Regions from separate parts of the Homo sapiens genome. Here region 2 is linked to region 1. Evidence: fine-mapped expression QTL. A gene starts in region 1. The other region holds a variant in brackets. All regions are shown on one strand. Distances are between the middles of the regions. Region 1 holds the start of FSTL1 (follistatin like 1). Region 2 has its middle 23 kb from the start of FSTL1.

Region 1 (5,377 bases):
CTGCAATATAATGCCCCAAGTTGTAAGGCTGTGTAGCCAACAGTATAAACTTGGGAAAGTATCTAAATCTTCCTGAGCTTCAGTTTTATTTGGAAAACGGAAGCAATAAAAAAGACCTTTCCATTTACTGTATTTTTTAAATTTTTATTTTTTATTGTTATTATTTTTTTGAGATGGAGTCTCTCTCTATTGCCCAGGCAGGAGTGCAGTGGCACAATCTCGGCTCACTGCAACTTCTGCCTCCCGGGTTCAAGCAATTCTGGTGCCTCAGCCTCCCAAGTAGCTGGCACCACAGGTGCCCACCACCATACCCATCTAATTTTTGTATTTTTAGTGGAGACGGGGTTTAATCATGTTGGCTAAGCTGGTCTCGAACTCCCGGCCTCAAGTGATCCGCCTGCCTTGGCCTCCCAAAGTGCTGGGATTACAAGGCATGGGCCACCGTGCCCAGCCTCCTTTCTATCTATTGTGAAAATTAAATAAAATAAGAGATGTTGAATGGCTTTCATAGTACCTGGTGTATAGTACCAACTACAATTTAGATGCAAAGCCGATCATGAAATAATAATGGCTATCACATACAGAGGTCTACTACCTGCCAGGCACTTTTTATATGCATCTGCTTAAATTTCACAACTCCCTGCAAGGCATTATCACTGCCATTTGTCAGAGGCAGAAACCTAGGTTCAGAGGGCTTATTATTTGATGCAAGTCAGGCCATGCAGCTAGTAAATGGCAGTGATAGGATGGAAAGCCAGATTGGTTTGACCTCAAACCTCCTGTGCCTTCTACCATGCCAAGCTGTTGTCAGAAAAGATATGAAGGAAGCAAACTTGACGTGGTTCCTGAAAACAAAACAAACAAACAAACCCAAGCATTTTAGTAGATAAGAGGAAGGGAGGAAAGATGATACCAGATTCTGAGAGGGTGCAGTGGATCTGCAAGGGATGCAATGTATTGTGCGTTATTCGAGGGCAGAACTTTATCCACAATAGTTCCCTTCAATCCTTGCACAGTGACCAAGACAGAGTATCTGGTGCGGAACATCTATTCCCTAATCTTATTACCATAACAAGGGAGCAGGAGTAAGTTGTCTGACTGGAGAGTTTGAAAGAACTGGGGATGTGTCACTCTACCCCCTCAAGTTTGGGGAGCAGGCATGTCCCAGGAGGCACATATTTTCTGCTTTTCCATGCAGTTTAGTTTTTACACAGGCAGGTTTTCCAGCTCTGCTTGTGACTGAGTGGACATGTTCAATTCTGGGCCCGCTGTCCCTGCAGATCTAAAGCCATGGCTGCCATTCCAGCCTTTAGCAGAGACAAAGCTGACATTTTGCTCTCCATAAGTCTGACTCCTGTTGCTATCTCAGTGGATTCTGAACTTACATGGGGACCATGGGTATTATCTTGAAGCCCCCTAAAGCCACAACAGTGGGCACTCAACAAACCTTGGCAGCAGAGTGAGTATGACAAGTTCAGAGGACAACGAGGAGATGGGCCTGCTTTGAGCGGAGGAAGTATGCTGATGTAGTTGAAGAGAAGTTAGATGGACAGGGTGGGCCCAGTAATGCAGGGCTTATAAGAAAGGCAGAGTTTGGATTTGATGTGGGTAGAAGAACGCTGAAGTTTCTGAGTAGAGGAAGAACATGAACACGAGGAAGACAATGTTTAAAATAAGGGAAAGAATATGACAATGGATTGCAGTGGAGACTACAGGGGAGAGCCTGGAGTCAGAGGACAACGAAAGGAGGTTTCCAGAATTTCTGAGTGAGGGAGGATGAAGGTCTGGCCTAGGAAAGTGGACATGTGAACGGAGGCGAGGGGATGCATATGAGATCTCAGCGGCTAAACTGCCAGGCTATGGGTACAAGCCGGCTCTGAGAAAAGGAGATAGGTTTGAAGGCAACCACCCTGAAAGAGGTAGATAAGCAGGCCCTGAAGCTGGGGGAAGTGAGGCTTAGTCTTGGGCATGTGAAATCTGAGTTGCTAAGTGGATCTGCTCTCCTTACTAGTTATGGCAGGAAAGGCGCCTTAATTAGGAGCATTTTAGGGAGTTAACCCTGTCAAAGAGGTAGCACACTTTCGAAGGCCAAGGGCTGGGAAGAAGGTGGTGAAGATGGCAATCCTGAACACAGAGGCTACTTGGGATGACAGGGATGGGAGGAGGGACACAGGTGATGAGTGAGTGGGCGGAAGAGAGGAGGGGGACACCGCTCCCCGGCCCGAGGGAAGGAGGGGATGAGGCTGCCGGCAAACGCTGGACTCAGGATCTTCCCAGCAGAGCAGGGCGGCCGCCACCTCACCCGGGACAATGCACTGTAGAACCCACAGCAGCCTTCCCCACGCCGGCCGGTCTTCCCGGCCCTGCGCCCACTTCCCGGTGCCCCGCTGCCCTGCTGCCGTGACCCCGGGATGCGGGGTCTCCTCTGCCTCCCTGGGCCTCCCCCTTCAGCCATGGGGGGCGGCTCCGCTTCCTAGGCCGCGGGACGTCTTTTCCTCCAGGTTCCAGTCCCGGACCTTCCCGGGCCCCCCACGGCACCGCCCACCTGGCCACCGCCGCAGCCCGCCCGGGCCGCCGCCAGCCAGCAGCCCCTCCCGGGGTGGGGTTTCCCTTCCCCCTACCCCTTTGTGGCAGGGACCCACGGGACACCCCCTCTGCCTCCGCTCCACGTCCAGGGGGCCGAAGGGGCGCCGGACGAGGGACCGTGCGGAGAGAGGGGTTCGGCGGCGCCAGGACTCCCGCGGGCTCCCCGGAGCAGGGGTCGGAAGGAGGGGGAGCGGGAGCCGCGGGGGCCGCTGCAGCAGAAGGGGGAGGAGAATGGGGAGGAGCTGGGGGGGCAGGCAGGCGGGGAAGGAGAGGTCTTAAGGGGCGGCGAGGGGAGGTCGCATTTCCTCCGAGGCTGGCGATCGGCGGAGCTCCCACCTCCGCTTACAGCTCGCTGCCGCCGTCCTGCCCCGCGCCCCCAGGAGACCTGGACCAGACCACGGTGAGCGCAGGGCGCACGGCGCGGAGGCCGGACTCTTCGGGCGGCCGGGGGTGCTTGGGCGGCCGGAGCGAGCCTGCGGGACCCGAGCAAGTTTCCCAGGTCAGCGCGGGGCCCGGCGCCTTCAGACTCGCTCTCTTCTCTCTTCCGCAGATGTGGAAACGCTGGCTCGCGCTCGCGCTCGCGCTGGTGGCGGTCGCCTGGGTCCGCGCCGAGGTAGGCGAGGGGCCGAGGAGTCCGAACTCGGTCCCCGGGGCCTCTTGGGTCTGCGCGCTGGGCGGGTGGGCGCGCGTCCTGGGGATGCTCTCCCGGGGTGGCGCTGGGAGTTTCGGTCCTTGGGGTGTGCTGGGGTGGAGCTGGGGCAGTAATGCTGCTTACGAAACTTAAATCTTTAAAGCAGGAAAAGTAGTTCGGGCCGTAAGCGGGAGCCCCGCCGCGGCTAACATGGAGGGAGAGCGGGGAGGAGGAGAGGGGACGGGCTGGGCCGACGGGGACGAGGCGGCGACTGGAGCAGCAGCGAGTTCAAAAAGGCGCCTCAGTTCCGTCCTTCACTTCAGAGGAGACTGAGAGTAGTTGGGGACTTTTCCCTCCCAAGTCTGTCTCCTGGGGGCGGGGGCAGAGGAATCGGGATTCTTCTTTTGGGGCAAAATTAATTTTCCTTTCTCTCTTTTAAAGTGAGATCATGATTCTCTGAAATGTATTTTCTTCTTTGTGAAGTGTCCTCGGGTTTTGTGTTATCATCTGGGCAATGTAACGGCCTTTTCCCAAGTGTTCCCTGTAACGTTGCGCAAGTGTAAGAGAAGATCCATTGCTCTGCTCTTTGGGGGCTCGAGTTTCCAGTTAAAGCATTTCAGCGCTTGTTTTTTTGTACCAATTTTTTCAACTCTAACGACCTTCCTGAGACACTACAAACAAACCAACAAACTCTTTGCTCAGAAGCCGCTCCATTAACTCAAAGGTTTATGGACAGAAAATAAACAATTCTAAATTCCCCGGGCTCCAGTCTCCAGGAAAGTGAGGTCAGAAACTAAACATTTGATAATTATGGCAGGAAATATGGAAGGAATTAAAAAGCATGAGGGAGAAGAAATGGAATGCACATTACAAAAGAAATAGCTCCCTGGTGGGTGGTTTATGCTCCCTGTTTGAATTTTTTCCTTCATATTACAGTTTAACCACACCCTTAGCATCGCAGCTTGACTCTGCCCAAAAAAGTCATAAATGCATACAAGGTCTTCACAATTTTTAAAAAATACGCATTGTACTGAATTCTCATTTAATTCACTACTACGTTGTTGATTGAGGTGGAAACTCAATCAACTGTTTTTACTGCCAATGAAATAAAAGTAGCTAATATTTATTAAATATCTGCTATGTTGTAATAAAATTCCATTTTAATGACAGATAAATTGAGTCAGCGAAGGTTACCCAATGCTCTCAGCTATTAAATGCTAAGGGTGGGATTTGAACCCAAACAGTCTGGCTCCGGACCCAAGGCTCTTGACCATTAACCCACACCACTTCCAAGCACAATGGTTTAACATTTACCAAGTACATTTTTGTTTACCACACACTGGGCTGTGTACGTTACCTGCAGTTACTTCTTTTAAAGCTCCCAAACCCTGTAATGTAGGTTTTATTATCCCGATTTTACAGAGGAAGAAACAGGTTTAAGGAGATTAGGTAACTTGCCCAGGGTCATACAACTAGTTAGCTCTGAAGCAGGATCTGAACCTACCTCTCTTACCTTTGGAGCCCATCTTGAACTCCAGGTCTGCTTCTTATCCATCTGGTTTTCCAGGGTTTGCATTTGAGAGCGTATCCCCCTTCACTGGCTGATGTAGCCCTGGTTAAGAAACATTTCTCCATCCCCTGCTGTGGCCCTCAAAAGGCAGTTGCAGACCAGTGATGGATGAGGTGAATCCCTGGTTGGTTTTCCAGCAGGCTCAAGAATTGCCAGCCAGTGTGTGAAATCACTCAGTGAACTGGAATGCAAATATGAGGTGTGAGGAGGCTGTTGGTTGACTTACCAGGCTGTGTGGCCCAAGGTCTGGAATCTATTCTAGGCGGCCTGCAAGACACACACCCCTCCCAACCCCCTTCCACACAGGGAAAACTTATCCCTGGTAGGAAGTTCCCCCAGCAGCAATTTCCTGCTGGAGGTAGAAGAGCATCCAGTGCTCTCACATAATTCCCAGGCAAACTACAGGGAAGAAGGCAAAATAGAGAAGTACTGAGATGTGAAAACAGAGTGCGTTGGGGGAGAAAAGAGGCTGTGAACTCACAGTGTATGGAAATGGTTACAATGAAAAGAGTGAGGGGTAGGTATGAGCTAGGTTACATTTCATGGCTCCAGGTTATTAAGGATTATTATCTTTTAATTATTCCAACCTC
Region 2 (5,377 bases), 22 kb before region 1:
GCACTCCAGCCTGGGTGACAGAGTGAGACCCTGTATCAAAAAACAAAAGCAAAAACGAAAACAAAAGCAAATGGATCCAGGCAACCTGGGGATCGTCTTTCACAATTGCTCTTCTCTGCTCCTTTCTGAGCATCTCTCTGCTTCATGGCCTCTCTTGCTGCTGCCTGGCTTCCTCTGTGACTCAGCCCGCATAGCAGATAATGGCTTCTACCAATGCTTTCAGCTGTAAATTGTGTTTCCTCAGCTGTTAAATGAAGAACTTGAATAATACACTCCGCAAGCTCCATCTGGCTCTGAAATTTGATGGAATTCTATTAGGAGTCCTGTGCAGTGGATGACAGGTGGGATCCTGAGGAATGGAGAGCAGGCCTGTGTGAGACCCAGCTGTGCAGGAGCAGGCGCACCTCAGGAAGGTGGCCCAGTCTGACCTTAGAGTGCCGAGTGGGGATCTCTTCAGGGGCCTAGTGAGATCATGGGCTCAGCCACACTGGAGAAGAGCTGGTGACACCTGGCATCAAGGTGGGGCATCCTGAGTCTGCACCTTTAGGCTGGCACTATCCACTTATATGCTGATGATTGGCAGAAACTCCAGGTTTGTCATTGCCTATCTCTAATTAGCATCAATAATTTATTCATTCCTTCCCCTGTTTTGATAGGAAGAAGCCCCACCCCCCGGCCTTTTTTTTTTGTTTAATAAAATGAGTTATCCTGCCAACCCCCACCTAACTATTCCCACAGAGCACCTGCTTGAGGTAGGTTCAAATCAGCCCTCAAGCCACAGTGTGACTAAACACATCTATGCCCACACAGAGAGTTCAGGAAATTCAACTCCACCACCTGCCAAGACACAAAACCTCACTGTAGGCCTCTTAGCTTCTTACTGATCCTGATTTGCATCTTCTTTCTGATCCCGGGATTTGGAGCCAGCAGAAAGCCCAGGGGATTTCTTGCAGAGGCTAAGGTGGGCTTCAATGGTGGGGATATCTGTGTTCCCGGACCTGGCCTCAAGCTGGCTCCTGGTCTTCATGAAACGAAACAGCCACCTTCCTTACATGGATTCCGCCATGCACATCCCACTTGACCTTGTCTACTCCAGCCAGACTAAATTGCTTCCTGTTCATGGCTTCTCTCTTCCCTCTGGGCTTCTAAATTGCCCTTAGCCAGAAATTCCCATTCCCACCCATCCCATCATCCAGGTCCTTCACCTGGATAGCTTTCATCTGCTTATAAGATACTTCCTTTGGGACATGCTCCCTGACCCCATCTCACTGAGGTTACCCCTATGTGTTCCCACAGCACCCCTTACTTGTCATTAAGCTTCTCACTCTGGCTGGCAGTCAGCTATTTACTTTTTTGCCTCCTTCCACCAACTGGTAATTCCAAACTTTATCTTTTTTACCTACATCTCCTGTACTTAGCACAGAGTCTGGAACATGGTGGAAGCCCCATAAATGTTCAGTGATGACAGGATCAAGTGCACATTTACTCACTTTCATCACCTTCCTAGGGACCACCAGCCCCTTCCATGTTTCCTACTTTCAAACTGTGGCCCCTTTCATATTATAATGAGTATTTCATCATGAGGCATAGTGAAAAATGAGATGCTGAGTACCCTAAACACAGAAGAGGCAATGTTTTCTTAGATGAGCTGCCTTTCTTGTTCACAATGAACTAAAGAAGGTTTTTCTAGGCATGGCAGATATTCTGGGAGATTCAGGAAGGGATATAGGGAGAGAAACCAGCCTTTCCTGCATCCCAACTTGAACCCTGAAGGGAGGATTTCCAAACATTCTCCCAGCATTGTTATGGGATGACATACATTCACCCGCTCTGAGTTCCTCTCATGGCTTTATTTATCATGCTCCCATAGACTGGAAAGCAGAAGGAATTCATTTTAAGACTTCAAATTATGTGCAGCATTTGATTAAATCTATCTTGAGAAACATCACTCATTGGCCTGTCTGGAGCTATTGTTGTGTGGTTAGCTCAGCACATATTTTCCAAGCACAAAATAAAAGGGTTAATGTGTGGAGATTCAGAAGAAGTCTCTTATTTGGCACTTGTACCAGCTATGAGATGGTTCCTCAGAACCATCCCACCACTAAGCAAACCAACCCTCTCTGAAGGGTCCAAGCTACTCCCCACATCCTCAAGATTTTACAGGAGCTGTGGTGCACCTCAGGGAGGGGCTCCCACTCAGGAAGGAGGCATTTTTCCCTGCATGGAATAAGCCATGGAAAGAGTCCCAGTTCTACAGGACTGAGAATATGACTTTAAAAAAAAAAAAGCAGCATAGACATAATCACTGCTTCTGTAGAAGCCACATCATTAACTTCCAACCCCCAAGTGAGTGTCTGAGTTGGAGAAAGAGAATGAAAGAAAAATAAGGTCCTGAGGCAACAAGAAGGAACCCTTACTTGACTCTACAGAACTGACCGTGTCTGATGTGCACACGTTATATTACTCTAGACCAGTGGTTCTCAACCGGTAGTGATCTTGTCCCCAGGAAACACCTGACAAAGTCTGGAGACATCTTTGGTTGTCACAAATTGGGGAGTGCTACTGGCATCTAGTGAATAGAGTTCAGGCTATTTGAAAAGGCTTCAAAAGGGAGGATCTAACTCAGGCTTGCGGGTTAGAAAAGGCTTCCTGAAAGAGGCATATCTAAGATACACCCTGAACTACCAGTGAAAGTTAATCAG[C/A]TAAAGGATATGGTGGTTCATGGCTTTCTGGAGACTTTCCCCCTTCTTCCTTGATGTTGACCTCAGTCCAGCACATGTATGAATTCCTCACATTTTTCTGGGTGACAAGATTTAGATAAGTAGCCTCATTCTCAGCCCTGGCCTCCAATATTCCCAGCTTCTCTTCCCCATTCCCCTGCCCTACTGCTGAGGGGCCCCCTGCCTTGTCGTTGGACACCACTACATACAACCTGGGGCTCATCCTCACTCCAACACCTGCAGCTACATCAGGTGGTACCAGGTTTCCCACCTTCATCACTCCCTGCAAGAAAGTAGCCACCTCAAAAGTGCCAAAGAACCGTTATTCTAGAAACAAGTTAATTTGAGTTCATGCATTTATTGGTCTGTCCCTCACTGTTTACCTTCTTAAGCACTGGTTCTCAAATGTGGCTTCACATTAGAATCACACAAAGTTTTAAAAATGACTATGTCCCCAGAGATTCTGACTTTGTTGGTACGGGTGCAGCCTGAGCTGCAGGAGTTTTACACTCCTCTCAGATTATTCTAAGAGGCAGCAAACACCAAGGACCACAAAGCCCTGTCCAAGCATGTTGGGCCGCAACATGGAAGCAGTACACTGATGCTCTCTGGCCCCACACATGCAGCCAATGCTCTCCCACATAATCTTCCCACCTTGCCCATCTGCTCCGACTAGTCCTGCCTTGGTCCCCATGGAATTTTCCATTCATTACTCTTAATTTTGAACAGCATTATCAGTTCTCCCTTTCAACTCAGGGTCTGTTCAGTTGCCTTAATCACCTTCCCATTCCCTATATTCTATTCTACCCAAGTACAACCTTACTTCTGCTTCCCCACAACATAAGATCGTTTATCTTCTTATCACATTCCCCTATGTGTAAATTTATTGCTGCAGTGGCAATTTACCACATACTTATTGACTTAACACATAAATTTATTCTCTTACAGAAATGGGTTTCACTGGGCTATAACCAATGTGTCATCAGGGCTGTATTTCTTCTGGAGGCTCTACGGGAGGATCCATTCCCTGACCTTTTCAGCTCCTAGAAGCTGCCTGCATTCTTCGGCTTGTGGCCCCTCCCACCATCTTCAAAACTAACAGCATAGCATCTTCTAATCACTAGTTCTCTGACCTCTGCTTTGTCACTTCTCTTCCTCTTATTCAGACACCCTGTCTCCCTCTTATGAGGACCCTTGGGCCAATCTGGATAATCCAGAATAATTTTCCCATCTCAAGATCCTTTACTTAGTCATATCTGCAAAGCATCTTTTGCCATGTAAAGTAACACATTCACAGGTTTGGGAAATTAGAACATGGATATAGATATCTCTCTGGGGGTGGGGGGTGCATTCTTCTATCTACCACACCCTGTTAAGGCAGCTGTCAGCTTTGTAATCTGTCAGCTTTCAAATACCTAGAGGTTCTGAGATCTTTAAAGATGGAGACATTGTAACACTGGACTTTTTGGACCTATTTCCAGTAAAATGAGAAGGATGAATCAAGCCAGCACAGCAGGTGACGTTGGTGGTGATAGTAGTGATTTTGCACCCCTCACCCTGGGGATATCTGACAATGTCTGGAGACATATTTGGTTATCTCATGTGGTGGTGGTAGTAGGAGGTTACTACTGGCATCTAGGTGGGTTGAGGCCAGCGCATGCACAGAACAGCCCCTCTACAACAAAGAATTATCTGGCCCCAAATGTCAATAGTGTCAAGGTTGAGAAATGCCGAATTAGACCATTCCTACTCAAAAATGTGGTCCGTTAACCAGCAGCCTGAGTATGACCTAAAAGCATTTTAAAAATGCAGAATCTTGGGCTCTGGCCCAGAGCTATTGAATCAGGGTATGCATTTTAACAAGATCCTCAGGCTATTCTATACATATTAAAGTTAAAGAGCAATGGACTAGAGCAATGATTCTCCACCTGGGCTGCATATTAGAATCACTTTAAAAAAAGACAGTAACCTGAGTGTAAGACTCAGATCACAGATTAATTAAATCAGAACCTCTGGATGTTGGAAACCAGGCATTGATATTTGTTAAAAGAACTCCCGATGATTCTAATGTGTAGTCAGGATTGAGAAGCTCTGTCCTATGATCTCTGAAGCTCTGCTATTCAAAGTGTTGTTGGTGGGCAGATATAGCAACATCACCTGGGAAAATTTTAGATGCACAGACCAATCTTTTGCTCTACCCCAGAACTTTTGAATCAGAAGCTGCATTTAACAAGATGCCCAGGTAATTCCTATTCACATTAAAATTTGAGAAAAAATCCTATTTCTTTTCAAAATATAAAATACAGATTTTGCTGAGGCCATTTACCATATTCCTAAGGAGGGAACTATTCAAAATCTTGTTTAAACAATGCTCTTCTGTTTCCAAATACTGTATATTGCATGACTATATTTAGTTTTGTTATTCACAGGTAAATTACTACATTTTAAGCAACTCACAGCTTGTCAGCTTCCAGGAACAAGGCTTTCTAAACAACGTGGTGTGTGGAAAAGCACTCTCCATGGAGAGGCAGGAGTGCAGTTAGCAATGAGAAACTTGGCCAGGATTTGCTTGGCAAAGAGGTGTTTCTAATAGAGCCCACGCCTGGGTTGTGCCAAAGGGAAGAGAGAAATGAGTTACAGAGCAAAGGCAGGCAGGG

The links. PIP is the estimated chance that this variant, and not a neighbour inherited with it, causes the effect.
Region 2: its variant is the best candidate, but not a certain one, in a credible set for the expression of FSTL1 in whole blood (TOPMed, PIP 0.67).

Annotation. Positions count from the first base shown.
Region 1 is chr3:120,448,506-120,453,882 of GRCh38, reverse strand. FSTL1 (follistatin like 1) reads left to right here and starts at 2,891. Exons shown (of 11, transcript NM_007085.5): 1 at 2,891-2,986; 2 at 3,137-3,199. The coding sequence starts at 3,137. LOC124900546 (a long non-coding RNA gene) reads left to right here and starts at 3,229. Exons shown (of 2, transcript XR_007096030.1): 1 at 3,229-5,377.
Region 2 is chr3:120,470,984-120,476,360 of GRCh38, reverse strand. No RefSeq gene overlaps it. Among named protein-coding and RNA genes, the nearest start is that of FSTL1, 23 kb to the right of the region's middle. The variant C/A (reference allele first, on the strand shown) is at 2,703.